Homo sapiens: one gene and its partners. The protein of the gene in region 4 purifies or fractionates together with the protein of the main gene of each other region. This does not show direct contact. Each region holds a gene or a part of one and is shown on either strand. Other genes may lie near its edges. The genes, in order: RRBP1, POLR1E, BEND3, MYT1L, RORB, UBN2 and MSANTD7.

The links.
Region 1: the proteins of MYT1L (region 4) and RRBP1 purify together in Homo sapiens (affinity purification with mass spectrometry, with the first as the bait; one large-scale study listed by BioGRID). This does not show direct contact.
Region 2: the proteins of MYT1L (region 4) and POLR1E purify together in Homo sapiens (affinity purification with mass spectrometry, with the first as the bait; one large-scale study listed by BioGRID). This does not show direct contact.
Region 3: the proteins of MYT1L (region 4) and BEND3 purify together in Homo sapiens (affinity purification with mass spectrometry, with the first as the bait; one large-scale study listed by BioGRID). This does not show direct contact.
Region 5: the proteins of MYT1L (region 4) and RORB purify together in Homo sapiens (affinity purification with mass spectrometry, with the first as the bait; one large-scale study listed by BioGRID). This does not show direct contact.
Region 6: the proteins of MYT1L (region 4) and UBN2 purify together in Homo sapiens (affinity purification with mass spectrometry, with the first as the bait; one large-scale study listed by BioGRID). This does not show direct contact.
Region 7: the proteins of MYT1L (region 4) and MSANTD7 purify together in Homo sapiens (affinity purification with mass spectrometry, with the first as the bait; one large-scale study listed by BioGRID). This does not show direct contact.

What each region holds. Positions count from the first base shown.
Region 1 is NC_000020.11:17,675,743-17,679,242, forward strand, and holds part of RRBP1 (ribosome-binding protein 1), read right to left. Parts: intron 1-3,500. UniProt on the Homo sapiens protein: Acts as a ribosome receptor and mediates interaction between the ribosome and the endoplasmic reticulum membrane.
Region 2 is NC_000009.12:37,492,448-37,495,947, forward strand, and holds part of POLR1E (DNA-directed RNA polymerase I subunit RPA49), read left to right. Parts: intron 1-209; coding exon 210-268; intron 269-1,111; coding exon 1,112-1,256; intron 1,257-2,721; coding exon 2,722-2,829; intron 2,830-3,442; coding exon 3,443-3,500. UniProt on the Homo sapiens protein: Component of RNA polymerase I (Pol I), a DNA-dependent RNA polymerase which synthesizes ribosomal RNA precursors using the four ribonucleoside triphosphates as substrates.
Region 3 is NC_000006.12:107,112,716-107,116,709, forward strand, and holds the start of BEND3 (BEN domain-containing protein 3), read right to left. Parts: upstream 2,801-3,994; 5' UTR 2,375-2,800; intron 1,718-2,374; exon of another isoform or gene 1,165-1,717; intron 1-1,164. UniProt on the Homo sapiens protein: Transcriptional repressor which associates with the NoRC (nucleolar remodeling complex) complex and plays a key role in repressing rDNA transcription.
Region 4 is NC_000002.12:1,789,276-1,792,775, reverse strand, and holds part of MYT1L (myelin transcription factor 1-like protein), read left to right. Parts: intron 1-311; coding exon 312-455; coding exon of another isoform or gene 456-467; exon of another isoform or gene 468-768; coding exon 769-909; 3' UTR 910-1,513; coding exon of another isoform or gene 1,514-1,540; 3' UTR 1,541-3,500. UniProt on the Homo sapiens protein: Transcription factor that plays a key role in neuronal differentiation by specifically repressing expression of non-neuronal genes during neuron differentiation.
Region 5 is NC_000009.12:74,664,835-74,668,334, reverse strand, and holds part of RORB (nuclear receptor ROR-beta), read right to left. Parts: intron 2,848-3,500; coding exon 2,740-2,847; intron 545-2,739; coding exon 434-544; intron 1-433. UniProt on the Homo sapiens protein: Nuclear receptor that binds DNA as a monomer to ROR response elements (RORE) containing a single core motif half-site 5'-AGGTCA-3' preceded by a short A-T-rich sequence.
Region 6 is NC_000007.14:139,237,737-139,241,236, forward strand, and holds part of UBN2 (ubinuclein-2), read left to right. Parts: intron 1-3,500.
Region 7 is NC_000010.11:14,844,403-14,847,499, reverse strand, and holds the end of MSANTD7 (zinc finger and SCAN domain containing 29), read right to left. Parts: 3' UTR 501-3,097; downstream 1-500.

The DNA of each region.
Region 1 (3,500 bases), on a different chromosome or scaffold from region 4:
ATGGTAGGAGTGAAGCTAGAGCGAAAGTGCCCTGAGAGGCCACTGGAGACCTTGACCAAGGAGGGTCTTGAACAGAGGAGTGACATGGTCTGCTCTGGCAACAGACTAGAAGGCAGGGGGTATAGGCAAAGGCAGGGAGCCCACCAGAGGCTAGAGAAATAACCCGGGGCAGAGGTGAGAGCAGGCTGGGCATGCTGGCTCACGCCTACAATCCTGGCACTTTGGGTGGCCAAGGCAGGAGGACTCCTTTAGCCCAGGAGTTCAAGACTAGCCTGGGCAACGTGGCAAGACACCATTTCTACAAAAAAACCTAAAAATTCACTGGGTGTGGTAGCATGCACTTGTGGTACCAGCTACCCAGGAGGCTGAGGCAGGAGGATTAACTGAGCCTGCAATGTTGTAACTGCAGTGAGCAGTGATTGCGCCACTGTACTCCAGCCTGGGTGATAGAACAAGACCCTCTCAGAAATAAAAAATCAAAAGGTAAGAGCTGTTTGGACCAGGGAGAAGGCAGAAGTGGTGAGAATGGTCACACTGGCTCTGTCTGGAAGGTAGAGCTGATGGGACCTGCTGCGTACAGGGTACAGGTATGAGACGGCGAGGAGTTAAGGATAAACCGAGGTTTGTGGCCTGAAAGGTGGAGCTAGCTGGCCTAGTTTCATTTTATAGGAGGGAGAAAACTGAAGCCCAGGGAGGAGAAGTCATGTCCAAAGTCACTCACTCACTCCAGGGATCAGAACACCCAACCAGTGCTTCTCCCACTGCTCCACACAGCAGCTCCGTGGGACAAGCTGATGACTAGTCCGGTCACACCGGACAGCCCCCAGCACCCTGAGGGACTGCCAATACCCAAGCACATAACATATATTGGGGTAGGATGCTGGGCACTGAGAGCACAGGCCCAGCTTAGAGAGGACAAACACAGTCCACGGCTGCCACACAAGAAAGTCAACCTAGTGTAGCCAGAAATTCCCATTTTCCCCCAGAGAACCCAAAAATCTAGATTTTGTTTTTGTTTTTTATTATGAGACAGAGTCTCACTCTGTCGCCTAGGCTGGAGTGTAGTATGATCTTGGCTCACTGCAACCTCCACCTTCCAGGTTCAAATGATTCTCCTGCTTCAGCCACCTGAGTAGCCAGGACTACAGGCACATGCCACCATGCCTGGCTAGTTTTTGCATTCTTTATAGAGATGGGGTTTTGCCATGTTGCCCAGGCTGGTCTCAAACTCCTGGGCTCAAGCGATCCACCCGCCTTGGCCTCCCAAAGTGCTGGGATTACAGGGATTAGCCACTGTGCCCAGCCCAAAAAATCTAGATTTTAGTGAAAAAAAAAAAAAAAATTCCACTTTTAAAAGGTGACTCAATTGCTTAATAACATGAGGTCAGTGAAACAAATTCCATGTGAAGGCCAAGTTCAGCTCACACAGGGCACCAGTTTGGAATTCCTCTCAAGACAGCCTAACAGACCTTGTTTGCTTATACCCTAACAGACCTTGTTTGCTTATACCTTGCCCAGGATAGAGAATTAAAGATTTGAATTCAAGATGGTCTTTTATTCCAACTTTTGAGTCAGCAGATGATATTCATTATCACTATAAATAGTCTGTAACTTCCAGTAGTCTTAGTGGGCCTCCTTTCTGACCAGAAAGAGATCAAGTAGCTGTCCATCATTCAGCTTCTTCCTTTAAAGTTAAACTTTGGTTTTATATTATTCTTTACAGAGTACTAATACTAAGATGAGCCCACAAGTACAACCAAGAATTCAAAAATTATTCCCCAGTACTGCCCAATGATCCTTTCGAAGTTATATGGAGGCCGGGCACGGTGGCTCATGCCTATAATCCTAGCACTTTGGGAGGCCGAGGAGGGCAGATCACCTGAGGTCAGGACTTCTAGACCAGCCTGACTAACATGGTGAAACCCCGTCTCTACTAAAAATACAAAATTAGCCGGGTGTGGTGGCGCATGCCTGTAATCCCAGCTACTTGGGAGGCTGAGGCAGAAGAATCACTTGAACCCGGGAGGTAGAAGTTGCAGTAAACCAAGATCACGCCATTGGACTCCAGCCTGGGCAACAAGAGCGAAACTTTGTCTCAAAAAAAAAGAGAAAAAAGAAAAAGAAAAAAAAGTTATATGGAGAATAACAGAGCTGTGTAAATAGTCACTGGTGTAGGAAGCAATTTATGCCACCCAAGAACACTGGAACTCCAATACTTTGGAACTGAAAAGGTTTCGGGACTGGGCAGGTATTCTAGTCTTGCCAAAAAAATCTAAGTTAGAAATCACAAAATGTTCTTGATAAGTTAAAGTTGCTGCCCATTGTTGACAGGTGGAAGACACATGTTACTGAATGCACATAAAGGACACACACGTCTGGTTTTGGGGGTGTCTGGTTGTCTGCTTCAGGAGACTCGGCCAGAATTTGTCTGCCTAAGAAAAGTCTCCTAGGAGGCCCCTGAACTAATTTTCTATATGCTAAGTGAGAGTGCCTCCTTGCCTAGGCACTGTCACTTAAAATTAAATATTTACCTTCCCTTACAAGCCATCACTTTCTACCTAATATCAATTTATTTTCTGTCTTTGTTACAAGTCACCATTTTGATGCTGAGGGCATTGGGTAAAAAATCTCTCCAGGAAAGGGCCACTATCTGTGTGGCCCCCCTCCCACTCCTTTTTCTTGGAATGCAGTTTACAATGCACACAAAGAGGCGGGACTAATGCTTTCTCAGGGTGAGATCTTATCAGGTGAAGTGTATCAACTGCCACTAGTCAACTGGTTTTGACCTACAGAATGGGCAATTTCATGTGGTTCAACATATTACCACATGATCAAGAGGAACAGGGACATGAATGTTTACAGAATACCAGCTGCCTCTACATCAGCACTGTCTAGAACTTTCTGTGATGGTGGAAACCATCTACAGCCACGCTGACCAACTTATGACTACTGAGCACCTGAAATGTGGCTAATTTGACTCAGAAATTGAATTTTTAATTTTACTTAATTTGAATTGTTTTAAACTTAAATTGCTACTTGTGGCTACTGTATTGGACAACACAGTTCTAGACAGTAGCTTTTTCAGGCAAGAACTAGGTCTCACTTGCGGTGTTTGAAGGCCCACCACACAGGAGACCCTCGGTGAAAAAAATGAAATGAAAAATACCTTCAGCACTGCCAGATTTTCAAAATGCCTCCCCACCTTCCTGCCACTGAAGCTCTTAATTTTGATCTTCACGTTCTGTGTCCTCCCTTGGGTAATTATTGCCCCAGGAAGGTGGAGGTATATAGCCAGGAGGGAACATTTGGAAGGCCGGGCCCACATCGCCTAGCAACTGGGCAACAGGAACTGGCCTGACAACCTTCTGACCAGCTGGACCTCCACATTCTCATCCACTGAATGGGTGACAACCATTCCCACCCCCTAGAACAGGGTTATTTTAAGGCCTAAATGTAAACCACAGTTGTGGAATCTGATTCTAAAAAGTGAACCTTAAAAA
Region 2 (3,500 bases), on a different chromosome or scaffold from region 4:
GATTTGGCTAATTTATTTTCCAAGTTCTTTAACTGTATACTAAAGCTGCATATTAAATATTCACAGTATACACTCATGTTAGGCTCAGGGAAGTCCTATAGTAAAGAAATCTATTATTCTTAGATAGACAAATGAATATTAAACACTATTACTATTTGTAGGCCTCCCAATTGACTTTTCTTTCTCTCTGTTTTTGTGTGTTTTGATAGATGTATCAGTTGAGAGTGAACTGGCGCTAGAGAGTCAGACCAAAACTTACAGAGAAAAGGTGAGTGTGATAGAATTAAGATGTGGGACCTTAAGCAAGTTCCTTCTACACCTCGGGTTTCTCCATCAGTGAAATGAGCTTGTTGAACTCAAGGGTCTCCCTGGCTGCTCCCCGCTCATTCAGTCTGTTTCTCTGGACAATTAGTTTGTACCTGCAGAAGCCTCCTTGGTCCCACAGAGAACAGTCTGGCTCCCATCTGGGGCAGCTGAACACAGCTCTGTGCCAATGTTTGGAGTCGGTTCTCTGGGCTGATACAAGTGTAGCATAATGCTTGTTTTTAGGATTTAGTCCAAGTTTTAGAATATATTGGTTGTAGCCTGAAAACATTCACGTTAAAACAAAGTAAACTTGGGGATTTTCAATGTAGAAGGTCCCTACAAAGGTCATCTCACCCCAAGATGACAAACTGATTGAATCTTTGGTGCTGTGTGGAGCACTGTATTGAGAAGGGTTGTGAGGCTACTTTTTGCTTCAGGGGGAAGGAGTCAGTGATCTATTAGCCCTGTCTGTTACGGGTGTAAGATGGGAGAATTACCATTCTACTATTCCTGTCTGTTACGGGCATAGGATGGGAGAATGGTAAGCCATGTGCTACAGATTTGCCAGCCCTAATCCTAGTCAAGTCTTTATATCTTACTGATGGAGATGCTGTTGATTGATCAATCTGTTAATATCATTTGGTGCTTACAGCAGTCCTGTGAGGTAAATAGGTGCGATTCAGCCTTATTCACAGGTGAGGTAGTGATCACTCTGGGATGCTGAGAGTATCCCCATAGTGACACAGCTAGGAGGGGCAGCACCTACCTGTCCTGTCCCCAGTAACCAGGTTTATCTCATAAACAGATGGATTCTTGTATTGAAGCCTTTGGTACCACCAAACAGAAGCGAGCTCTGAACACCAGGAGAATGAACAGAGTTGGCAATGAATCTTTGAATCGTGCAGTGGCTAAAGCTGCAGAGACTATCATTGATACGAAGGGTGTGACTGGTAAGAAGTTGGAACTTGGGCTAAGAGTCTGCCCATAATGACAGCTTTCTCTTCTCTTGAGATCTTTTACCCACCCACACATGGAATGCTGGGAGCTAGGGCTGGATTCCTTTCAGCCTCTTGCTGAAGGCCTTCTCACGGACAGGTTCTGGAAGTAGTAAGAAACATCCGACATGGCTTTGTCTTCTAGTGATCCACAGTCAAGTACAGGGACAGGCATGGAATGGATACATGCCTGCCGTGCTTATGGTGCTGGGGTTATGGCCTGCAGGGCACAGAGGAGGGAGAAGGCCTCAGGTCTCTCCTTGTGCGTTGCAGGGAAGCTTTGGTCAAAAAGGCTGATGTGTTGATGGAAATGAGCCTCCAGAGGTGGCATTTCACTTTGGGATCAGTGGCTCTGTTTCCGGTATTCAGCAGCTGGAGTATTTAATTGTATTATTTTAAAATGTATTTATTGTTCAAATACATTATAAGAACATAAGAGCAAGTTTGTGTAAGAGTAGCTTTTCTTTTTACCGATTTTGGAGATGAGGTCTTGCTATGTTGCCCAGGCTGATCTTGAACCCTTGGCTTCAAGCAGTCCTCCCGCCTCAGCCTCCCAGGTAGCTAGGATTATAGGCGCACACCACTGTGCCCTGGGCAGAGCAGTTTTTCTATTAAGAATGAAATTCTAGTAATTTTTGGAAAATCTTTCCATACCCTATGATTATATAGATTTCAACACTTTCACAAATTTATTTATTGATTGATTGGAGATGGGGTCTTGCTCTATCACCCAGACTAGAGTGCAGTGGTGCAGACATGGCTCACTGCAGCCATAACCTCCTGGGCTCAAGTGATCCTCCTACTTCAGCCTCCCAAGTGGCTGGGATCACAGATGTGTGCCACCATGCTCAGCTAATTTTTTTAGTTTTTTGGAGAGACAGGGTCTTGCCATGTTGCCTGGGCTGGTCTCAAACTTCTGGGCTCAAGCCATCCTCCCGCCTTGGCCTTCCAAAATGTTGAGGTTACAGGTGTGAGCCACCACACCTGGCTGCGGAGTTATTCTTGTGGGGCAGTTACAGTGTTATATTCTGAAAGTTTTGTTCCACCTACAATGTGTGGCAAGTTTTTCTAGAAGTTAAGCCATTAAAGGCTATTTTGGACGTCCCTCACTTTTAGTTTCTCTCATTTTATATTGTAAATGTTTATGTATTAGCACAGCTGTCAATCCCAACTCTATTGTAAGTTACCTGAGGGGAATCTTGTCACCTCCACCTTCTCCAGTGCCTAGCTTGTGTTTGTTCATGAGTGAACATGGCAGTCCTGAAGCAGTCAGCCTGATGGGGAGGCGAGGTCACTTTGGCAGAAGCATTTAGACTTGGGGTTTCTGGACCATTGGTGGTCTGAAGTGCACAGACTGAAAAGAATGTTGGGGAACTGGAAACAAACAGGGTGATACATGGATTGTTTCTTTATTGAAAAGCTCTGGTCAGCGATGCTATCCACAATGACTTGCAAGATGACTCCCTCTACCTTCCTCCCTGCTATGATGATGCAGCCAAGCCTGAAGACGTGTATAAATTTGAAGATCGTATCCTTCTTGCAGTAGAAAAGCTGCCTTATTTCACAAGTTGAGATGTTTGCACGTGTGTGCAGTCAGGTTCTCTGAGGGTGTCTGTGTTCTGTGACATTCACAAGAGCTCCATCCAAACCTTTGCAGTTGCTCAGTGCTCTTGCCAGGAGGTTAACTTGGCTTCCTCACTAGCTGAGGGACCGGCCCCTGGGATTCAAATCCATTCCTCAGCAAAATGCCAAATGCCCACAGCTTAGACCTGTGGGGCTCACTCTCCATGGAGAGTCAAAATAAGAGTTGAACCAGCCAAATGCCCAAAGTCTAGGGCAGACCACTTTTGTTGAAGGAAGGGTTGGAGCTTAGAATTTCACCACCCAAGGGGTCCGGTCAGAAGGAAAATGCCTGCAGTGGCTTTGTGATGAGAAAAAGCAGAAAAGCCTGGGCAGGGAATGGGCTCTGGGCTGGGAGTCGGAGAACTGAGTCACCAAGCTCTGCCCCTATGTGATCTGCCCTGTGTGATCTTTGGCTCTCTGAGCCTGTTTCCCTGTCTGTGAAATGCCACTGCTATGAGATGACCTAGCTAGTTGGATGTTTCTATTTTGGTTGGATTATATTCTTGACCTGTAACTAGTTCTTTCCCCTGCGGAGTATGAAGCTCTTCAGAGCCCATCTGAAGCTTTCAGGAACGT
Region 3 (3,994 bases), on a different chromosome or scaffold from region 4:
GGTGGCGCGCGCCTATAATCCCAGTTACTTGGGAGGCTGAGGCAGGAGAATCACTTGAACCCAGGAGGCAGAGGTTGCGGTGAGCCAAGATCAGACCATTGCAATCCAGCCTGGGCAACAAGAGCAAAACTCTGTCTCAAGAAAAAAAAAAAAAAAAGAAAGGCTGGGCGCGGTGGCTCACGCCTGTAATCCCAACATTTTGGGAGGCCAAGGTGAGCGGATCATGAGGTCAGGAGATTGAGACCATCCTGGCTAACACGGTGAAAGCCCGTCTCTATTAAAAATACAAAAAATTAGCCGGGAGTGGTGGCACGCGCCTGTAGTCCCAGCTACTCGGGAGGCTGTGGCAGGAAAATCCCTTGAACCTGGGAGGCGGAAGTTGCAGCGAGAAGAGATCACGCCACTGCACTACAGCCTGGTGATAGAGCGAGACTCTGTCTAAAAAAAAAAAGCACGGTGGCTCATGCCTGTGATCCCAACACTTTGGGAGGCCAGGCAGGCAGATCACCTGAGGTCCGGAAACCAGCCTGGGCAACATGGTGAAACTCCGTCTCTACTACAAATACAAACATTAGCAAGGCATGGTGGCACATGGACTGTAATCCCAGCTACTCCGTGAGGCTGAGGCAGGAAAATCGCTTGAACCCGGGAGGCAGACGTTGCAGTGAGCAGAGATCAAGCCACTGCACTCCAGCCCGGGTGACAGAGCGAGACTCCGTCTCAAAAAAAAAAAAAAAACAAAAAAAAAACTCATGTTCCATGACAGGAGGTTGATGTGACAGATTTCAAGGGCCACACAGACACCAGCTAACCCAGCAGCAGCAACTGGCGCTCTGGCTCCATCTTTCCTCTAGAATCCAAGAGGCTCTCTCCATTCATTTAGGAAATACGCACTGAACGCCTACTAAGTTATGAGACACCGGGTTAGAGGCTGGGGATGTGAAACTGTGAGGGAGATAAAAAATCTTGCCCAAGTCCCAGTACCGAGGAAAGCTTGACAGGCTCTTGTATGGTAGTATAAAGCCAATATCTAGGGATGAATGGTTTAAAAAAAAAAGAGAGAAAAACGGACTGCAAGGGTGGAAGTGGGGAGCGGGTAACAAGAGAAAGTCCTCCATCCCAGCCGTTTATATACCTGGCTACCTGAAGGACTCAGTTCCTTACCTCAGTTTCCTGCAACCGTAGCTTTCTGGCACTATGCCACGCTGCCCTGTGGCATGTTTACTATTTGTATTCAACCATTCAAAAGTTACTTTAAGGAGATGAACTGCACATTTCCAACTCTAGTGAGTAACCTTGTTCCTCCCGGCACTCTTGTCGAGTTAGCGTTTACGTGCAGAATTCTTCCAGAAAGACCACCTGAGCAATCAATAAAACTTTTATCTCTGTAAAAACACCTTGTTTAAAATAGCTACATAGGGAGACGTAGGTAAACAAGCACACAAGGGCCTCCAAATCGGTGGTGCACAGCTCACGGATGAGGCAAGGGCAAAGCATGCGTGGGAAATCACGTTTATCATAGAGAAGGAAAGGAGCGCTCACGAGGAGCGGCGAGCGCCCCAGGCTTCAGCTTTGCGGCCGGCCGGCCAGGCCTCGCGCCAGCCCGGGTGCACACCCAAGGCGCCGGGCCCGCCTCCAGCTCCTGGGCAGCGGGAACCGCGAACCGCCGTGGAACGGCCGGGAAGGGAGCGCTGCGCCCCCTGGCGGCGGGGCCCATCCCTCTCCGCTCCCGGCCGCCGCCGCCGCGGGCCGGCCTCGCTCCATTTGCAGCCTCCGGAGGCTTCGTTCCTCCGAGCGGCTGCTCCCCCGGCCTCCCGCTCGCCGCCCGGCATCTCCCTCCAGTCCCCGCCCCCTGCTCCCGCTCCGACACCCCCTTCCACACGCCGAGCAGTGCCCCGCCAAAGCCCCGCCGAGCGCGAGCGCCAAGCCGCCGCGAGTACGGCAGAGCCTTCCGGCCGCCCCGGCCGCTCCATCGCGGCGCCCGGCGGGGGTGCGGGGCCGGCGCGCGGCGCGAGTGGGGCGGGCGGCGGCGGCGGCGCGGACGGTTCCACCGCGCGAACCCCCCGCCCCCGCGCGGCGCGCGTGCTCCCCAGAACGCCATGGAGCCGCCGCGTTCCGAGCGGGCACAAAGGGGCGCGCAGCACAATGGGCGCGGCGAGCCCGTGGGCGCCCGGCGCCCGCTCCGGTCGCTCGGCCCGCGCGGGGGTGGGCGCTACTACCGGCGGGCGCGCTCGGAGCAGCCCCCCTCCGCGTCCCCTCCCCTGCTCCCGCCCCCACCCCGGCATGGATGTTGCAGCCACTCTACCGGCCGCTCGCCCCGGAGCCGCCAACGCTGCCGCCGCCGCGCGGCCGGCTTGATCCGCCCCGCACTTACCTGGGACGCGAGTTCTGTACTTTGCCGGGCGGGCCCGCGCCGAGTTTGGGCGCCACGTGGGGGGGAGGGCGCGGGGCCGGGGAGTGGGGGCCGCGCGCGGAGGGCCTGGCCAGGGCGGCCCGGGGAGGCGCTGGGGGCGGCGGGCGGGCGAGCGCCGTGTATTTTCCCCTCTCTTTGTGTGTGTCCGTGCGCTGCGCTCTCGCGTGACGTGACGGGACTCCGTGTGTCATTTCCGCACAAGGACACAGGAGCCCCCGCTGCAGTGGAACCACAACCCCTCCGCCCCCACCCCCGGCCCGCCCCTCCCCCTCAGCGGGGCACACGCGGGACCGGCGGCGGCGGCGCTCGGGCGTGAACGGCCGCGGCGGGGAGCTCGGGCGCGCACTCCCGGGACCCAGGCGGCCCGGCGCGCTCGGCCAGCGCAGTGGCTCCACGTGGGCCCGCGCTGGCTGCCCGGGGCGGGGGCGGCGGCCGCGCACCCACGGCGCGCCGGGCAGGCGCCGCGAACAATGTCCCCTGTACCCCATGTGTCCTCCCACCGCGAGTTCGTCCTCGGAAACGTGGTTTCTCAGACCCGAGAGTTTGGCCCCAAACGGCTTTTTCTACTTTTTTGCCCCTTGCGGGACGGCGACTGTGCGGAGCTTGTCCCGCCTCGCGCCCACGCCTCTCCCGCATTTTTGGCCTTTGGGCCGCAGCCCAGGCCCCCGGGGCCGGTCTTCCCGCGCCGCCACCGGCACAAAGACCTTGGGGCGCGAGGGCCCGGGTGGCTCCTGCGGCCCCGCGGGGCGGCATGGAGTCCGGCGGGACCCGGGAGAGCGACCCTGGCGCTGGGAAAAGCTGGCTCTGGCCACTCCCCCTGCACGGTGGCCGCCCTCTGTTGTGAGCCTCAGAGCTAAAATCTGCTCTTGCAACCCGAAGTTCTGGGGTGTGAGGCTGCGGAGCGAGAGCTTCGGAAGCGCCCGCGCTCACAGACACACACCCCACAAACACAAACCCACGGGCTGTCTGCGCCGAGCGCCTAAAATAGAAAAACACGAGTCACCAACTCAATAAAGGCTGATTCTGTCTACTCCTAACTCTTGGACTGTAGATTCCCAGTTGATAAATACGAAATCTACCCCTCGGGTATTTTCTCAAGTCTCAGTGGCTGGGTAGGGGGAGGGGGAGGTGCTGGGTGAGAGTCAGGGAAGCCCAATTCAACAGTTTAGCCACGTTTGTATTTTAGGCAAACAATGAGAATGTAAATTTAAGAAAAATCCTTTAATTTGCCGATCAAAGAAAGTATAAAAAGAAAAATGCAAATGATCCCATCTGCTGCTCACAGCTGACTGGCTGCAAGGGAGGACCATGTGGCACGGCCCTGCGCGGTCAGTGAATAGGTAGAATAGATTTTTAAAAGAAGGCATATGTTGGCTCCTTGCTGCCCAGTCGCGGCGAGGGTTTGAATTAACGTATAGTTTGGGTTTACCGTACCCTCCTTCAGACCACTCCAATTGGGAATTTAGTAATTATGCAAGTTCCCCCCCTTCGGGCTTGAAATCAAAAGGCACAGGGTTAAGTTTGAGGAACTACGTGGAACATTCTCGAGCTGTATTTGGATTACTGGTTTAGTGAAGTCAG
Region 4 (3,500 bases):
GTCTCAGTCTCCCGAGTAGCTGGGATTACAGGCGCACGCCACCACGCCCAGCTAATTTTTGTATTTTTAGTAGAGACAGGGTTTAACCACGTTGGCCAGGCTGGTCTTGAATTCCTGACCTCAAGTGACCTGCCTGTCTTGGCCTCCCAAAATGCTGGGATTCCAGGCGTGAGCCACGGCGCCCGGCCCGAAGCCTTTCTCCTTCAGCGAGAGGCCCCTTCTTCGCACCCAGTAGACTGTGGCCCCCGGCAACGACCACGCGCTCCTAGGTCCTCCTGGTGTTACATGTCACGCACACTTGTGCGTTTCAGATTACCACGATGGAGAGCAACCTGAAGACCATCGAAGAGGAGAACAAAGTGATTGAGCAGCAGAACGAGTCTCTCCTCCACGAGCTGGCGAACCTGAGCCAGTCTCTGATCCACAGCCTGGCTAACATCCAGCTGCCGCACATGGTAAGTGACTGAGCACGCAAGGCAGGAATGTGGAGTCCTCCACAGCGCACAGCCTAAAGTAGATGCCGTTTTTATCGTTATTTTCATGGTTCTTCAGCCTTTGGCAAATGTTTGTGGTTACCACCCCGAAACCATACCATTAACTGCTAGAAACATGGGCGGGGCTGACCCCAGAAACTTAAGTGTGCTCTGAGCCGGCCTTTGAAATAGTATAAAACCAGGGGCACTATGCTATGATACTATTTTATGCTTTTGTAAATATACTATTAAGAAAATAAAAGTTGTATATGAACTACTATTTAATATCTCGTAGGATCCAATCAATGAACAAAATTTTGATGCTTACGTGACTACTTTGACGGAAATGTATACAAATCAAGATCGTTATCAGAGTCCAGAAAATAAAGCCCTACTGGAAAATATAAAGCAGGCTGTGAGAGGAATTCAGGTCTGAACAGCTGCTGTAGTGATGAAACTCTTGCTTAAAAAGGATGCCTCTTGTTTTTTGCTGCTGTAACTTACCAGAAAGTGTTCTATATTTATTTCTGTTTGAATTTGAAACAGTGTTATGCTTACAAGACTTCATAATGATTTTATGTCTTGCTTTAAAGATAGTACCTGCAGAATAGTTTTTGAATACACCCACATTTTGTACGTTTCCATGTAAGCTGACATAGTGTTCTGCCATGTAATGTTTATAGCTGCTGATGTATGCACATTTGGGGGTATATCTATTTCTGAAGAGGTAAGCTGATCAAAATAAATAGAGTGTAAATTCTTTTTAATGCTTTAGTGATTAAATGTTTTAGTATTTTGAACTGAAATGGACACACAAACACACACACGCACACACAGACCCACAGCTTTGAATGATCATGTTGTGGCTGAGCAGCCGCTTTTTAGACGTTATCATTTTGCCTCATGTTGGAGGACTTTATGGAATTTAAGAAATACATTTTGTGTGCATATTGTTTCATAGCAAGAATTCGTTGCAAAAATGCTTTATTTTTGAACAATGCTTGGAAATATTATGTGACTTTTTTGTTTGTTTGTTTTAGGAGGATGGTGTATGGTGGGGGCAATAAATGAGGTTTTTTGCATTCCAAGGAAATGGCATATGGATTAACTGTAAGAAATGAAATAAGTAATTTATTGTAAGACAACATCAAGCCATGGAAACTTGGCAGAAGATTCAAAGCAGCTTAAACAGCACTTTTAAATTAACTCCTAAGCGTTACATGGTTGTGACTATGGAAACTCCAGTTAAGACAGGATCTTATCAGAGGTGGACAACGTGAAGATTTCCTTTTCCATTTTCAATAAACTTTGGAACAACCTTCTCGTATCTCCCCTAGAGTTTCGTGCCCCTCTGAACTGTCTGTTATTGCAATGTAGTTTATCAACAGAATTTGTGTGTTTTCGATTTAAGCTAAAAGATAATTTAAGAACATTTATTTCCCCTTTTCACTTTAAAAAATTATGATTATTCCTATTATTGTTATGAACCTTCTTATTTTACATTTGAGGGATAAAGGCAAATGATTTGTGAGTCTTCTAGTTACTGGACCGAGTTTTCTGCTGGATCTGGTGGGAAGGCAGCTCGGTAAAGTTTCCCTCCTGCTCCCCCCGCCCGACTTTGACTCTGAATCAGCATTTGGTCCTATTCAGAGGACTCTTACCACGACGTTTCTGTTCTACACTTGGGTGGAGACCAGTTGACCATAGAGCATTTGCAGAGCCTCATTGTTTGATTTCTTGTGACTATTCTAAGAATGAATGCAATCAGATTTTAAAAGTAACTAAATATACTTCAGCACTTTTTTGCTTTAAACTAGATCATCTTAGACTTGTTTATACCTTCCAGATTTGATTGTTTTACTCCCAATGACTGCACTATATGTATGCATAAGACCACTTTTGAGCGCTGTGTTCCCCCTTCTGAGTAGTCCTTTGACGACGTGTTGTGTTTTCTGATGTTGACTTGAGTTCCATTTAGTAGCATCTCTTCCTTCCATGTCTTGATGTTATGCAGGAAGTACAGACGTACTTTAAATTTTTGTTATGAAATAAAAAAAAGATGGGTTTTGTAAAAATAAAAAAAAAATATTTTTAGCAGAACAGGACTTACAGGGTCATTGTCCCCACAATGTGCCAGTCGACTATTTGCACTTACCTTGTCCTATATATCCGTACGGAGGTGTGCAATTCCTCGTGTCAGTAGCCTTGTGACACTGAACCTGGATGGATTATAGAGGAGCCCTCACGGCTGATCAATAATGTTGCAAAGGGAGACTACAGGGATCTCACGACGAATATTCTGATACAATACTCAACCTCGGTATATATATATGTGTATAAATATATGTATATCCCAGCGGCACTTTATACTGTTCACTGTACAAAAGCTTACAGTTTTCCACAAGGACTTTAATAACTAGCTGGGAAAAGACGATGTAATTATTTCGGGGCTCTGCGGAACCTTCTCTGTACAGCGCCCCCTTTCTGTTGTGCTATTGGTTGCAGCTGCCATGCTCAGAATGCGTTTTGAGAGCTGAAGCAAGGTGCTTGCAGTCACCTGAGGCCGTCCGTGTGGCCCAGGGCCCCAGCTGCCTTTAGGGCCCCCATTGTTCATAACAGCATATGCATTTCCCCACCGCGTTGTGTCTGCAGCTTCTTTGCCAATATAGTAATGCTTTTAGTAGAGTACTAGATAGTATCAGTTTTGGATTCTTATTGTTATCACCTATGTACAATGGAAAGGGATTTTAAGCACAAACCTGCTGCTCATCTAACGTTGGTACATAATCTCAAATCAAAAGTTATCTGTGACTATTATATAGGGATCACAAAAGTGTCACATATTAGAATGCTGACCTTTCATATGGATTATTGTGAGTCATCAGAGTTTATTATAACTTATTGTTCATATTCATTTCTAAGTTAATTTAAGTAATCATTTATTAAGACAGAATTTTGTATAAACTATTTATTGTGCTCTCTGTGGAACTGAAGTTTGATTTATTTTTGTACTACACGGCATGGGTT
Region 5 (3,500 bases), on a different chromosome or scaffold from region 4:
TTAAAGAGTAGAAAGTGTTCCTTTTACTTATGTAGGTCCCCATTCTGGAGCTTTCATTTAGGTACATTTCTACTGTGTCTCATCCAACTGGACATTTATTTTCTATGTACTTTATTCTTAAAGTCAAAATAGAACTTGGCTGTAACTCAGGCCACTATTTGTCTTCCTTTATTTGCTAAGGAATGATTCTGCGTATCTGAATCTGGAATAACCCCTAACCTATGCTCTACTCTTGCTTTCGGGCCAAAATTGGTCATTTTAATAAACTTGAGGCTACTTCCCTTTTCACTGTCCAAAAATATCAAAAACTTGGTAAAGAAAATATAGCTCTGTTAAAGTTTCTCCTGAACACTTTGGCTTAGGCAGGTGTCATCAGTGTTAAAAATAGTAAAACAAGTTTTTTAAAAAGGTAAGAGAACTGAGACTGCCCTACCTGGAGATATCAGAACAGCAGATGAGAACAAAGCGATCTCCTCCTCGGTCAGCTGCAAGGAACACAAATTCTTTGCAAAGTCAAATGCTTCATTCACTAGGTCATCAGAACCTATAAAGGAAGAAGAAAAATGGAATAAAAATACTTGAACTTGAAATGGGGCAAGAGTAAGAAAAATCTCATAATCAATAAGCTATCCAAGGAGGTGCATACTAGACTTCTAGAAAAGATATTTTTTTAAGTTTCTAATTATAAAAAGTGATTTGATACTAATCAAAGAATGAGAAAATTGGGCAACATCTTGGCCAGGCAATCCAAGTTAACATTACCTACCAATGGCAAGCAAGTAGACTTGGTGTGTGAGTGGTGTCACATCTGTCTGGCAATCCATAATATGATTACATCCTTATAAATTTGAAATGATTTCACATTAAAGAATATAAAATAAGTGATTTGGGGATCCTTTACAATAGAGATAGTATTCATAGAAAACCTAAAACATTACATACAGGGGCTGAGGATTGTCAGTCTTCGTAACACTTGAAGCTAGCAATGTAGGGTATTCTGGACTTTTAAACTGAGACGTTAGAAATATCTAATGGAACAGAGATGAGATGCACTTCAGTTTCGCAATTTCCTTGGAAATTTCACTGAGGAGCTAGAGTTTATTTATTATTACCTTCTAATGAATGACTCACAGGTCAGTTGCTTAGCTGTTGCGTATTTTGGCAAAATAATGTTGCATCTCTACACTGATCCCTGGTGAATGTTTATTTGATGAAGCTGGAAATATACTGAGGTTGCTTGCCAAGGCTTTTCCTCCTTTCTTGAAAATCTAGCCTTGGAGATGACATGGATGTGTATCAACTGTAGAAGGGAAACATTGCCAGCCCCGATGGACTTGTTGTTGGCTGCCATATCAACTAACAGCACAAGAGGTGAAAGGGCAGTGGCCTTCTTTGGTGTCCATGGGCAGGATATGGAACAAATGGCACTATCAATCGTTAAAACCTTTCCTGGCATCAGCCCATCTTTGCTAATGTTCTTCCTACCATGCCATGCACTGATGACTGGATGTGATGATATATAACACTTCCAAACAAAGACTGACTCTGTTAGTGCCTTCCCACAGGAATGGTCTGGGATCACTGTGGACAGGTTGGCATGAACTCTGTGCTCCCAGAACTTTGTGAATTAACTTCTGTGGGTGAGAAACAAGTAGAGGAGCTCCTCATTTAATTAAGTATCTTAACTCATGATGATAAATTGACATAAGAAACGCAAGAGGTCACCACCATGGATGACCAGGGGTCTATGCAATATGCAATAAAGTTGAAAAAAAAAAGCTGATTTCACAAAGAATGATCTATAATTCAGCCCAGCTCTTTTACTCTTTTAGCATCAGCCTCCGGTTATTTCTTATTTCTTTCCTTTTTTTTTTTTAACAGGGTCTCGCTTTGTCACCCAGGCTGTAGTGCAGTGGTGTGAAGATGACTCACTGTAGCCTCAATCTCCCAGGGTCAAGCAATCTTCCTGCCTCAGCCTCCCAAGTAGCTGGGACTACAGGTGTGTGTCACCATGCCCAGCTAATTTTATTTATTTATTTTATTTATTTGAGATGGAGTCTTGCTCTGTTGCCCAAGCTGGAGTGCAGTGGAACTATCTCAGCTCACTGCAACCTCCACCTCCCACATTCAAGCGATTCTCTTGCCTCAGCCTCCTGAGTAGCTGGGATTACAGGCGTCAGCCACCATGCGTGGCTAATTTTTGTATTTTTGCAAGAGACTGGCTTTCACCATGTTGGCCAGGCTGGTCTAGAACTCCTGACCTCAAGAGATCCACCTGCCTCAGCCTCCCAAAGTGCTGGGATTACAGGCATGAGCCACCACACCTGGTGATGCCCAGCTAATTTTTGTACTTTTTGTAGAGATGGGGTTTGGCCATGTTGCCCATGCTGGTCTTGAACTCTGGGGCTCAAGTGATCTGCGCCCCTTGGCCTCCCAAAGTTCTAGGATTATACGCATGAGCCACCACGCTGGGCCTCCATTTATTTCTGAATGAACGATGTCTCAATAGGGTTGTTCTCAGGAGGGTCCTCAGTTCTCTCTTTCTTTTGTATTGGAGGCCACAGTTACAAGATCAGGAGAGGCTTGCCTGAATTAGAAGCTCACCTGGTCCATCGCTTATCGAATAATGAGATACTGGTTCACATCAAAGAATCAAGGCATTTCATTTACCAATTTCAATCTAAGTGGAGAAACTGATGGTGGCTAATAAAATTGTGTCCTCATCAAAGGGAAACTTACCTAAGGCTTTGAACATTTGCATTCCTCCATATTTTCCTTCAAACAGAACAGTGTTGTTTAATGGGTTGAAGGCACGGCACATTCTCACTAAAACCACTTCCAAGCAACCTATGAGTAAAAAATAAAAATAAAAATAAAATAAAAATACACATATATATCCAATAATAAAGAAATTATTACTGCATATAGGTAAGAGACTTTCAAGAACTTTAAAACACACAGAGAGACACATACACACACACACAGGCACACACATACAGAAATCCCTTAAGTTCCTTCCCCTAAAATAACTATTAGGTTGGTGCAAAAATAATTGCAGTTTTTGCCATTGAAAGTATTGGCAAAAACCTAATATATTTGCACCAATTTAATATATTAGAAATAAAGTTTTCTTGATACTTATATGAGGAATTAAGGAGAAAATATATTTTACAGGTGGCTAAGCTGGACATTACTTTTTGAAAATACATTTTTCTCTATTTTTCCACTAATATTAAAGCTAGTTTTGATTCCTGAATTCACAATTGAGGAAATGAGGGCAGAAATTTTGTCTGCAGTGATAGGCAGCCATGATTACTGTATTCACTCTTGCATCTCCAGGACCAAGAAAAGTTTCTGGCACATAGTAGGTGCTAAGCAAATATTTATTGAATGAATTTGTTTACTACCACTGTTTTTCCCTTTGAGCATTATTAACATCCTGAGGAAATACTGCTGCATAGCTTCCCATGTTTTGGAGAAATGGGCTTTTGCCCCATAGT
Region 6 (3,500 bases), on a different chromosome or scaffold from region 4:
GTCCAGGTCTGTGTAGCTCTAACTCTGTTCCCTTTCCGCCACCATCGAGAATGCTATTTTAATTCCTTTGGTATAGTAGTTCTGAAACCTTCCTGCCTCCTAAGAGTTTGAGAGTGAATGTGTGTACTTCTAAGCTCATTGCGTCAGACTCAGAACCAGCATGAGACTTCTTTGAAAGTGTCCGGTTTATGCTAAATATTCATGTACATTTTATATTCAGTGCCACAATATAGTGGTGTTTGTTTGAATACAAAAACAATTTTTAATTACCTGATTAAGTTGCTTAACATTTTTCTCAAATTTTCTAGTATTACTAAATTTGTAGAAAGCCCCACTCCTCACCCCACATTTACACTATGGCTTTGAGTACTCTTGGCACTTTACTAAAACATAACCCAGTTGAGAAGCAACACCTTACCCCTCTGATTCCTCTGTGAGCATTGAAAAGTATCCCACAGGAGAAAGGATATCAGCTCACATTGGCCTTGTCATTGAGGGCCTTGTACCCTCAAGATACAACAGGGATCTTGACCCATATGTGCTGGCTCCTTGTGGTAATTAAGAAACCATTTGAAGGTAGAAGAAGTAGATGAGAATAGATTGGAATTGGAATCAGGTCCTAGGCCATACTTTGCCATCTGCTAATTGTGTCCTTTTGGTGAGGTTTTTTAGCTTTGGGCCACAGTTTTCTTTTTCTCTCTTTTTTTCTAAGACAGAGTCTCTGTCACTCAGGCTGGAGTGCAGTGGTGTGATCTTGGCTCACTGTAACCTCCACCTCCTGGGTTCAAGCAATTCTTCTGCCTCAGCCACCTGAGTAGCTGGGATTACAGGCATGCACCACCATGCCTGGCTAATTTTTGTATTTTTAGTAGAGATGGTTTCACCATGTTGGCCCGGCTGGTCTCGAACTCCTGACCTCAACTGATCTGTCCACCTTGGCCTCCCAAAGAGCTGGGATTACAGGCGTGAGCCATTGGGCCTGGCCAAGGGTACAGTTTTCCTATCTATAAATTGAGAGGTTCAGATTTTTCCGAGACCCTATTGTTCTCTATTCTGTGACTATATAATAATAAATTTAGGGATAGACTGGTGGGTGTTTAAATAGAAGGAATAGCATTGTAGTATTTAATTACAGTGTAATCTTTTGAGACTATATTGTATCATGATGTATAAATTGTAAAATCCTATAGGATGTATAAATCCTAAAATCCTAGCATGTATAAATCCTAAAATACTGTGTTTTTTATACAAGTTATACATTGGTTACACTTAATGTTTTAACCAACTAGTACACTTATGTGGCTCAAAATTCAAAAATTAAAAATCTTCCTTTTATTGTATTGCCCACCCATGGAATCCCACTTCCTAGGCAAGTAACACTCCTGTGGTACTAGAGATACATCTCTATACATACACATCTATTCCTTTCCCACCCCCTTTTTATACATATTATAGAATTGTACACACTTAAGCTCTTTGCTTTTTATTTACTGTATCTTAGTATATTTGGGGGGGTCATATCAGGACAAAGTGCTTTCTCTCCCTTTTTTTTAAGGCTGCATGCTGTTTCATTGCATGGAACTATCACACTGTAACCAGTCCCCAAATGATTTAGGTTGCTTTCAAAAATTTGCCCTTATTAATAGTGCTGCAGTAAATTAGTCTGTAAAATGGCATTTTACACAATTTCAAGTTTATCTCTAGGAGAGATTCCTAGAATCAGACGATTCAGGTCGGAAGATTTATGCATTTATAATTTTAGTATATATTACTAAATTACCAGTTCTACTCCCTCCATCACTATATTAGAGTGTCTTTTTTTTTTTTTTTTTTTTTTTGAGGCAGAGTTTCACTCTTGTTGCCCAGGCTGGAGTGCAATGGCGCTATCTCGGCTCACTGCAACCTCCACTTCCCAGGTTCCAGCAGTTCTCCTGCCTCAACCTCCCAAGTAGCTGGGACTGCAGGCATGCACCACCATGCCCAGCTAATTTTTTGTATTTAGTAGAGATAGGGTTTCACCATGTTGGTCAGGCTGGTCTCGAACTCCTGATCTTAGGTAATCCACCGCCTTGGCCTCCCAAAATGTTGGGATTACAGGCGTGAGCCACTGCGCCCAGCCTAGAGTGTCTATTTTGCTGTGGGTTACAAAATCAAGGATTTTAGAATTGCCCTTTGCAAATGGAAAAATTCCTATATATAATCCTATAAGTAAAGTGATTCAGTATATGACGCACTACCTTAAAGTTAGCATTAAGTCTTCTTAGTCAACCCTAGGATAGTATCTGGCATAGAAAGATCAGCGTTCTGAAGAAGTTGTTTGATGCGTGAAATTGAGTTTCAATTGACTTAGATATATTTAAGCCTTGTTATTTTGTTTACAGTGATAAAATATTACTCTTGTTATAGTCTAAATTAATGGGCTATATTTCTTCTCTGGATTTTTATTTTGCTGACTTACTGTCTTATTTCCATTCTAATTAGAGATTGTATGTATATTAACCAAAAAGCATGCCCAAGTGTTATATCTATGAGTATTGTGTGTGTGTGTATATGTATATATATATTTATTTGGTAGAGACAGGGTCTTGTTGTGTTGCCTAGGCTGGTCTTAAACTCATGAGCCTAAGCAATCCACCTGCCTCAGCCTCCCAAAGTGCTGAGTTTACAGATATGAGCCACTGTACCCAGCCTAAATATATATATATATATATATATATATTTTTTTTTTTAAATAATTATTTGGAATCTTTTAAGAAAATCATCAGGCCAAAAGTGACCTGAGAGAAGATACATTGTCCTGCTGGGCGTTATATGCCTAGAGCTCTAGGCTATCACAAAATCTCTCTCTTAAACTACAATGATCTTTATTGGTGTTTGGGGCAGGTGTTGCAGCAGTTGAAGATCAGTGATATCAGAAATTACAGGGAGTATAAAATTGTAAAAAGAGCACCCTGCATTGAATTTATGGGGTTCCCCCCTCCATTGTGTCCTATTTTTATGGCCATGTTCTGTTTCCTGTTATGTTGTTCTTATGCTCAGGTAATGTGACAGTTCATATTCAGCATCAATTACTAAATGGTTTTTTGGGAAAAGGTCAATATGACTATTAAGTACCTATTTTTACCTAGATTATACTAAATTGGTTGTTGTACATAAATCTTTTTAAATAGCTAAGTCCAAGTTTTGACATTTCTACAACCGTATAGGCTCCAGATTCGTCTTGATGGTTAGAAAGGAGGCAGGATACAGGTAAAAGAGGCTCCCATGCCTCTCTTTATTCCCAGTTAAGGCTCCAAAATGTTTAGGCAAAACATCTTGGTTTCCAATTCAGTTTTTAGATAGTCTGTAGGTAATATATGCCTTTTATGAGGCCACCTATACTCTATACTCAGGAGTAGGATGCTTCAATTTGATGGGTATAGACTTGTTATCTTAGCCTTCTAGGACATAGGATAACCTATAATTGTTGGAAGATTTCTCTTAGTGATTTTTTTCTCACT
Region 7 (3,097 bases), on a different chromosome or scaffold from region 4:
CATAACTGGCTGGCATTCAGAACTTCAATACAAAGTTTAGTATTCTTTCCATTAAACTCTTTGCTTCTTCCTTTTCCTAAACTCAGTATTTAATATTAACTATATCCCAAACACTTTAAGAATAGGAAAAATAGATAAAGTGTGCTCATAGCGGGTTTTGCACCAATATTAGAATTTCAGCATGACACTTACTAGTTCTGTTTTCTTTAGAATTTAAGTCAACCAGAACAATTTATACTGTTGTGCGTAGGTTGTCTACCACCCAGACAAGAGAATTTGCCAGGAAGGATATTTTACAGAATTTACAGAACTCTTAAGAAATGGAAAATTATTTCTCAACTGCTTTATAAAGAGGGCCGCTCTCCTCTGAAGACAGAAAGCACATATAGCTCCGAGGGCTGCAGACATGCAAGACCCTTAGCAGAGGAGAAAGCAAAGCAGAGAATGGAGGCAACAAAGGACCACAGACATCATCACAAAGTAGTGGACTGACCCACAACTACATACAAGTGAAAACTTTATTTGTCCACACCAGGATTACCGAACAGAAAAACAAAGGTGGTGAGAAGTTGGTATACATAGCACCTTATTTACATGATGGACTTGAGGAGGCAGTTAATCCTATGGTTGTGTATCACAACCTTTATTAGCAATGCCATCTTCTCTTCCTCCTCCTACTTGAATATCCCTTACGGTCAACAGCCCACGGGCTTGGCACACACCAGCACTAATGTGCTCCAGAGTCTTTCCCCTACTTGTTACATGACAGTGCCTTACATGTCTGAAAGTGCTCATACATTCATCTGTTCCTTTGATCCTCACAACACCCCTGTGAGGTAGGTAGGACAATTATGAGTTTCCCACTTTATAAATGAGGAACCTGAGTTATGGAATGCTGGAAAAGCTTTTCTAAGGGGGTTCAAGTAGTAATGGTTGGGTCTACCACATAGGCAGATTCCTGGCTTGCTTTCTTGCACACTGTCTCCCTGTATTCCAATTTCCCTCCCCTTAATATTTTTAGCCTATTTTTCTGTGTACTTATTCAAGACCTTTCCCTTGACTTTTATTCCCACATTAGGGTTACTTTACCCATTGAATTTCACAATACCACATCCAAATATTAATTCCAATGCTCTTCTTCAGCACTCCTTTCATCTCAAAGAAATCCCTGTCTTATGCACTTTGCTACCATTAATAGATTTATAGAATACAGGCCTAACTCTCCGTCAAGTACTTCTGTGTTTCCAGAAAATCTACCTACCTACCTACCTACCTATAATTGACACATATCTTTCCATATAATAGCCTAAGACAATTGAGAATGAATATAGCTGTATCCATTTCAATGCCTTAAATATATGCTCTTTTAAAGTAAAGAGTCTATATGTCTGGTGTGGCACTTAGAAGTTCATGAGCATATTAATAAATATTAATACCACAGAATGCTACCTTAAAATTGTTACCAGTATTTCAAATATACATATGCTGCTGTGACAGAAAATATTACAATTAAAATTTCGTTTTCATTTTGTCTTTTATTATGCTATTTCAAATTTTTTTAGAGCTGGAAGGTACTAGGAAAAAAAAAATCTAATACAAATCCCTCAATCCGGAGATAAAGAAATTGAGGCATGAATTGGCTGGGCACGGTGGCTCACGCCTGTAATCTCAGCACTTTGGGAGGCCGAGGCAGGTGGATCACCTGAGGTCAGGAGTTCAAGACTAGCCTGGCCAACATGGTGAAACCCCGTCTCTACTAAAAATACAAAAATGAGTTGGGCATGTTGGCATGCACCTGTAATCCCGGCTACTCGGGAGGCTGAGGTTGCAGTGAGCCAAGATTGCACCACTGCACCCCAGCCTGGGCAAAACAGTGAGACTTTTTCTCAAAAAAAAAAAAATAATAATAATAGAAAAGGGCAAGTGATTTGTCTGATGAAACAAACTGTGACAGGATTCCAATCCAGGAATTCTAACTAGATTCCAACATATTCTACCACACCAGCCGCCTCACACCTCCATCCCTGGCTTGGCAGAGCAGCTCGCTTGCCGTCTACTCATGGTTCTGGGTACGCTCCCACTGCTGCTCTGACCATTTCTCCACCTATGTCCATTTCCAGCATTTAGCTAAGCACTCGAGCCTGCAAGATAGAAAATAAAACCTCCCCCAACATGCCCACTCTTTGTTATTTTTCCAACTTCTAGATTATTGGAAAACTTTTTAAATCCTAAAGATTCCTATTTGTATTCCTAAAAGTACTAAGTAAATCACTAAAAGCTTTAAGTTAGTTTAATGACAGAGAGTAATGTCTTCCCTTCTAGAGTAAATCGGAAGTGTGGCTTATCACCTTCATCTCTCCCCAGTGTGTGTCTGGGGTGTGGAGGAGGCTCATCTGTTCACGGCTAGTGCTTAAAAGGAGTCATCTATTGCAGGCAATCTTTATCCACACCATCCTCTAGTGTTCCCAAAGTTAAAGAGGAAACAAAGCTGTTCTCTTCCACCAGATGCCATTAACTACATAAACTTCTGTCTACAACATCTGAGGAAAAGGAATCTTGGAAAGCTCCTCAAAAGGAAACGTTTCTAGGGCTTGCCCTGTATAACATACTAGACAAAAAAATAACAGAAAAGAATGAAATCAGCTAAAAAGCGGATGGGAAACTGATATAATCTGAATTGTTTCCACAATGTTCCAATGGCAACCGAAACTTAAAGATGTAATTTAGGCATATAAAGGGACCCAAATAATATGAAATGCAAAGAATTTACATATATTTAATATTTTATAAAATGGCCAGTATTTTATATTGAAGATTATCGATATAAACCGTAACACACAATGGCGGCTCCCTGGCACTTCTTATTTCCTTATATTGATAGGAGACTAAGAACCAGTAAAATGAAGGAGAGAAAGACGGTTTGACAAAACAGTGCTTACTAGTAGATATGTCAGATACACAGCAGTGGAAATGTAAGAGATTAAGGTACAAATACAGGTTGTGCTTATAGTCGTCTAATGAGCCACACAGGGATTTTAAAAATTAAGATTTCAAACTCCATGAAGCAGTCAAGTTAGACCAGCAAAGGAAAGATTCA